Regions from separate parts of the Homo sapiens genome. Here region 2 is linked to region 1. The links come from fine-mapping of genetic effects on plasma protein levels. Region 1 holds a variant in brackets. A gene starts in the other region. All regions are shown on their forward strands.

The links. PIP is the chance, under the fine-mapping model, that this variant and not a neighbour inherited with it causes the effect. Protein levels are from antibody-based Olink assays in UK Biobank. Linkage for the fine-mapping came from a reference panel and not from the study's own genotypes, which makes the PIPs less certain.
Region 2: KLK12 starts here. The variant in region 1 is fine-mapped to the plasma level of the KLK12 protein (UK Biobank, PIP above 0.99).

The regions. Positions count from the first base shown.
Region 1 is chr6:2,243,605-2,246,508 of GRCh38, forward strand. It overlaps GMDS (GDP-mannose 4,6-dehydratase), which reads right to left and starts at 2,001. Exons shown (of 11, transcript NM_001500.4): 1 at 1,717-2,001. The coding sequence starts at 1,818. GMDS-DT (GMDS divergent transcript) reads left to right here and starts at 2,149. Exons shown (of 7, transcript NR_046229.1): 1 at 2,149-2,326. RefSeq lists an enhancer at 1,643-2,143 and a silencer at 1,644-2,273. The variant A/G (reference allele first, on the strand shown) is at 1,507.
Region 2 is chr19:51,033,465-51,036,368 of GRCh38, forward strand. It overlaps KLK12 (kallikrein related peptidase 12), which reads right to left and starts at 1,538. Exons shown (of 6, transcript NM_001370125.1): 1 at 1,342-1,538; 2 at 1,121-1,176; 3 at 516-675. The coding sequence starts at 1,157.

The DNA of each region.
Region 1 (2,904 bases):
AGGCCCTGACCTGTCTTACTGCCTCAATTCAAGGATTCAATTTCTCAACCTCAGATCCTTGCCCTCTTACTAGTTTTCAAACTCAGATCCACCTCTTACTAGTTTTCAAACTCTTGTCTATTATGATTACCTTAAGCAAAGCAAGATGCATGAATAACCAGCAGTAAATCAGGTATTCAATACTTGAAATTGTGTAATATTCTGTGACTGTGCATCTGGCCAATTTCAACTTCTCCTTCTTTTTTTTTTTTTTTTTTTTTTTTTTTTTTTTTGAGGCAGGATCTCACTCTCTTGCCCCAGGCTGGAGTACAGTGGTACCATCATTGCTCACTGCAGCAGCCTCAGACTCCCGGACTCAAGTGATCCTCCTGCCTCAGCCTCCTGAGTAGCTAGCACTACAGGTGAGCACCAACATGCCTGCCTCATTTTTTAAATTTTTTTGTAGAGACAACGTCTCAATATGTTGCCCAGGCTGGTCTCAAACTCCTGGCCTCACCTCGAGCAATCCTTCCACCTCTGCACACCGAAGTGCTGAGATTTCAAGTATGAGCCGCTGCCTCCTGCCCACTTAGCCCTTTCTAACACTAGAGAACTTTGAGAGTGGTTTCAATACCAACTGGACACTTCCCAGCGGTTTAACCTCAGGCAAATCAAACTCCCATGCCTCAGTTTCCACATATATAGAGATAATAAAAGTACCTCCTCAAAGAGTTTGTTATGAGAACTAAATGAGTTAATGTTAGGCAAGCGACTGGAACATGATAGACACAATATGTATTAGCCATTATCACCTTTATCTCAGTGTTATATTGGCCACCACCCAGAGATACCCAGGAGCACACACATCACATTCTTTCTACAGCAATATGTGGGCACGATTACTTCATGACCACTGAATCTAAAACAGCACAGCTTGGTAAGACACAGCGGTCGGATCCCACCTACTGCAACACCTCTAAGAGGCGACCCTCACAAACCAGCCATGCTTAGCCTGAGACATTCCGAAGACCTCCTCTTGATTACCTTACTCGACGAACTTATTCCTTTGAAAATGGAACTAGCCGCACTTTTGGACCAGTGTGCCTCGGATACACTTCCAAATGTGTCAACCTGAATCTCAGAAGTTGGCGTGATTTTAAAAAGTTTTTTAAGTTCTTTTTCCTAAACATGTCCTAGTAGGTGACTCCACAGCATTACTTTCTTTCATGTTCTCTTTTCTATCTGGAAATCCGGTGATAGGGGACGAAACCAGCAAAGCACCCTTTTTCTTGCTTCCCAAACGTTAGCAGGTAAGCGCCCCTTGAGCCGAGACACATCAAGAAGACCTCACCCGCAAGTTCATTGATCACCGGTTCTTTTCCCTTTCCGGCACTAGGAGCTGCGAAGCACGACATGGGCTTGGAGGAAGAGACGCTGCGGTCACCTGAGGGGCAGGTGAGAGCGGGCGGTCCTGCCCGGGTGTGAGCGCGACATCCCGCGCGGCACACACGCTCACAGCCCCCAGAG[A/G]AAGACCAGAGGCGCTCGATGTATCCCGCACACCCCACACGCAACACACTAACTGCACCGTACCTTCCGTCCCACCTCCCGGCAGCAGACCCCTTCCGGGACGCCGAGAGGGCTGTTCCTGGAGAGACCGCAGCCCACGAGTAGCGGCGCGTAGGGAGAGCACGCGTGCCCAGGCTGCCTCGGCCGGCGCGCCCCCGCCCCCGCACTCACCTGGCCTGTGATACCGGTGATGAGCGCCACGTTCCTGGGCTTGCCCATCTCGCCGTCCCCGGAGCCCCGGGCGCTGGGGCAGCGTGCCGGTGCGTGTGCCATGTCCCGCGGCGGGCGTGCGGTCGGCGGCAGGGCGGAGCGCGGCAGAGGGCAGGCGCGGTGCCGGCAGGAACGCGGGGGTGTGCAGCACGAAGCGCCTCTCCAGGCTGCGGGCAGGGAGGGAGAGCGCACCGCGCGACCGGCCGCCACAGTCTGACAGGGGCGCACGGGAGGCCGTGCAGGGAGGGCCGGGGGCGGGCCGAGCCGGCCAAGGCGGGCCCGACGGGCCAAGCAGCGGGGCTGCGGCCTGACTGGCGCAGCGTCATTCGCGTCAGCCGGCGACGCTGTAGCAGGCCCCGCCCCTCCGCCGACGGCCACCGCGCGGGAGGGGCGGGGCCTGCCGCCGCCACCGCCTCAGGGAAGAGGAAGGAGGCCGCGGCTTCGCGTCCCGCCTCTCGCCTGGCTGGCCGTGGGGGGCCTGGACGCAGTGGCCTCCCGAATCTCCCAGGACCCTAATATCGCCCGAGGATGCTGGGAGGAACGCTGAGCCGACCTCTCCGTTAGGCTGAAGGTCTGAATTTTCAAACCCAGGGGTCACAGGGCCGGGGTCATGGACTTTGATAAATAATTCCTGGAAACCTGTTGCAGTGCCCTTTGAGAAGCCCGGTTTATGGTACCTGAAGGGCAGTAGCGTACAAGGCCCGTAAACGGGGGTCACAGATGTGGGAGTGACTAACTAGGCTGGCTCTCGCTCTTCTGGCCTTTCCTGAGGCTCGGAACCAGTAACGAGGTTCCAAATAGCTGAATTCAAAGTTTTCTCTTCTGAGGACTGCCAGTGCACAAGAAAGTCCCTAGCCCCACCCGTATGCGGCATAAGGAAATGTTGAAAAGACTGCCCGGGTCAATAAACCTGGACGTGGCAGATTTCAAAGAAAGTAATTCAAACACAGGTGGGGTCCCGGCTTACATCTGTTGGATTTGGCTGCCATTTGGCAGCTGCTCGTTGGACAGGGAGAGGAGAGGAGGTGACTCAGAGCCGGGAGGGCAGCAGGTGTGTGTGCCTAAGCAGTTGGCTGCAATCCAGGACACAGACGGAAACTTCCCGGTCTCCGTTGCTCTGCTTCTCTGTCCACATTCCTCTCCCTAATC
Region 2 (2,904 bases), not on the chromosome of region 1:
AATTAGCTGGGCATGGTGGCGGGTGCCTGTAATCCCAGCTACTCAGGAGGCTGGGGCAGGAGAATCACTTGAACCTGGGAGGCAGAGACAGCAGTGAGCTGTGATCACGCCATTGCACAGCAGCCTGGGCGACAGAGCGAGACCCTGTCTCAAAAAAATAAAAAAAAGAAAAAGAAAAAGAGCTTGGGTGAGACCTGGGCCCCGGGCCCAGACTGGGTCAAGGAATGGCTGGGGTGAGTGGCAGATGTCATATAGGAAAGAAAGGGTACATGCAGGAATGGGAGAGGCAGGAGGGCAGGTTCCAGGACCCTCCCCGGCCCTCCACCCAACATACCTCACCCTGCCCAGCACCACCCCAGGCCCACTGCTAAGGAAGTTCCACTCCTGGTCTAACCTCAGACTCTCTTGTTGCAGGATCAGCTTCTTCCCAGTGGGCACCACCCTCCCTTGTGATCCTACCCCCAGCGCTTGCCTTCCCATAGTCCTCCCTTCGCCCACCCCAGGAAGGGACTTACCTGCCGCTGCAGTGAGCCGCTGTGAGGACCCACCTGTGGTCAATAAGGACACCCCCGCAGCGCAGGCTGGTGCCCTCAAACAGCCCCACCTGCCACGGCTGTGAGTTACGCCCACACTCAGTGCCATTGAAAATCTTCGGTGTGGCTGCCTGGCTGAGCCCTGGAGACAGACAGGGGCATGGGTCAGAGAGAGGAAGAAAAGATACAGAGATGGAGAGACACACAGAGTGAGAGAGAGAAACAGGCAGGAGAGAGAGAGGAGAAAGAGAGACGAGAAAGAGAGAGAAAGAGAGAGAGACCCAGTGATAGAAAAAGACCATGAAACATCAAAGACACCCAGGGAGAAAGATGCTTACACATAGGAGGGAAATGGAGAGACAGAGATTCAGAGAGGGACAGAAGGGAAGAGGGATCAAAAAATAGGGGAGACCGAGGTGAGCAGTACCCTGAGAGCTGCAGGTAAATGGAGGCACAGAGAAAGCCCCTCTCCTCCTCACCACCAGGCTGGGGGCCAGAGCTGAGATGGGGAGGGTGGTGGGGCCTCCTCATGGGGGTGAAGGGATCCAGTCGCAGTCCTGCCCTCTCCCTGCTCCGGGAGAACTCACCAAGAACACACAGGAGCAAAAAGATGCTGAGCCCCATGGTGGGTCACTTCCAAAGTCTGGGGGAAAAGGGGAATCTCAGAGGTCACCCTTTCCCTGTGCCCCCCACCTCTGCCCTCTCTGCTTCTCTTTGAAGGTCACCAAGGGGATGACCTGCTTGTCCTCTCTCTACCTGCTCCCCTGTGTGTCACTCCCTCATTGGCAGTCGCCTACCTCCTTCTCACCTTGTCTCTTTGTCTGCCAGATCCTCTACGTGGCTGTCACTGTTTGGCCTGTCCTCGTCGCTGCTATCTCTCCGTCCACCTACCTGCCTGTCTTCTCATGTGCTGGCCACTCCGCCAGCCAACTCTACCACTCTGCACCTGGCTCCTCAGCCACCTGTCATGTTGCTCAACCGGTCCCTTTCCTTCCATCTGTCGCTCCAGACAGACCACTGACAAAGCTCTTAACTCTCTTTGTCCTGGCCCATCCAGTTTCCGGGTTAAGGGAAGGGGACCACGAAGACAGGGGTGGGGCGTGCTCTAATTCTGCAGAAACTCTTCTCAGCTAATCACACTTAATTGAGCTTTACAGCTAAACGGAGTGGGGAAGGAGGAAAGGACCCAGGGTGGGAAGACCCAGCCCCACTCCCTCTCTCCTCTGCAAGCCCGTCAGCAGCCCCAGGACTGATGACTCAAGGTGACTAGGGAGCTGGGTTCTAATCCTGACTCCAGTGACAAAGGAGGGTGGGGAGACCTTGGACACCTGGGGCCCATCCCCATGCAGTGCAGGGGAGGGGCAGGGGGAAGGAGAGGCTGTGAAAGCAGGAGAGTGGACGGGAGGGGCAGGAAGCCCAAGCTAGAAAGAGTCCCAGAAAGAGAAGAAGAGTTGAAGGAACAGACTTCCAAATAGGTGATCAGGCAGGGGTAGAAGAGAGTTTCTGAACTGAGTTCATATATGTACATATGAAGTGGATCAATCTAATTCCATAAAGTTTTTCTTTGCTAAGAACTTCTATTGCTTAAATAAAACCCACAGAGAGAAAAAAAAAAGACACAGGGAAGGAGAAATGGTAGAAAGAGAGAGAGAGAATGAGTCACAGGACAAGGGAACTTTGTGCTGTTTTTTGTTTTTCGTTTTGAGATGGAGTCTCGCTCTGTCACCCAGGCTGGAGTGCAGGGCTGTGATCTCCGCTCACTGCAACCTCCACCTCTTGAGTACCTGGGATTACAGGCACGTGCCACCATGTCCGGCTAATTTTTGTATTTTTAGTAGAGACGGGGTTTCACCATGTGGGCCAGGCTGGTCTTGAACTCCTGGCCTCAAGCAACCTGCCTGCCTTGGCTTCCCAAAGTGCCGGGATTACAGGTGTGAGCCACCATACCTGGCCTCTGTGCTGGTTTATCTGAGTTTTTGCTTCATCTAGGAGGAATGGAAGGAGAGAAAGAAGGAGAGAGAGAGGGGACAGAGAGAGAAAATGAGAACAAAAAGGGAATTCGGCTCAGAGGAAGGGGGATTGAGAAACAAACCAAGAGAAAAGCAGTCAGGGCCAGGCGCGGTGGCTCACGCCTGTAATCCCAACACTTTGGGAGGCCGAGGCGGGCAAGTCACTTGACGCCAGGAGTTCAAGACCAGCCTGGTCAATATGGTGAAACCCCATCTCTACTAAAAATACAAAAATTAGCTGAGTGTGGTGGTGCATGCCTGTAATCCCAGCTGCTCGGGAGGCTGAGGCAGGAGAATCCCTTGAACGTGGGAGGCGGAGCTTGCAGTGAGCCGAGATTGTGCCACCGCACTCCAGCCTGGGC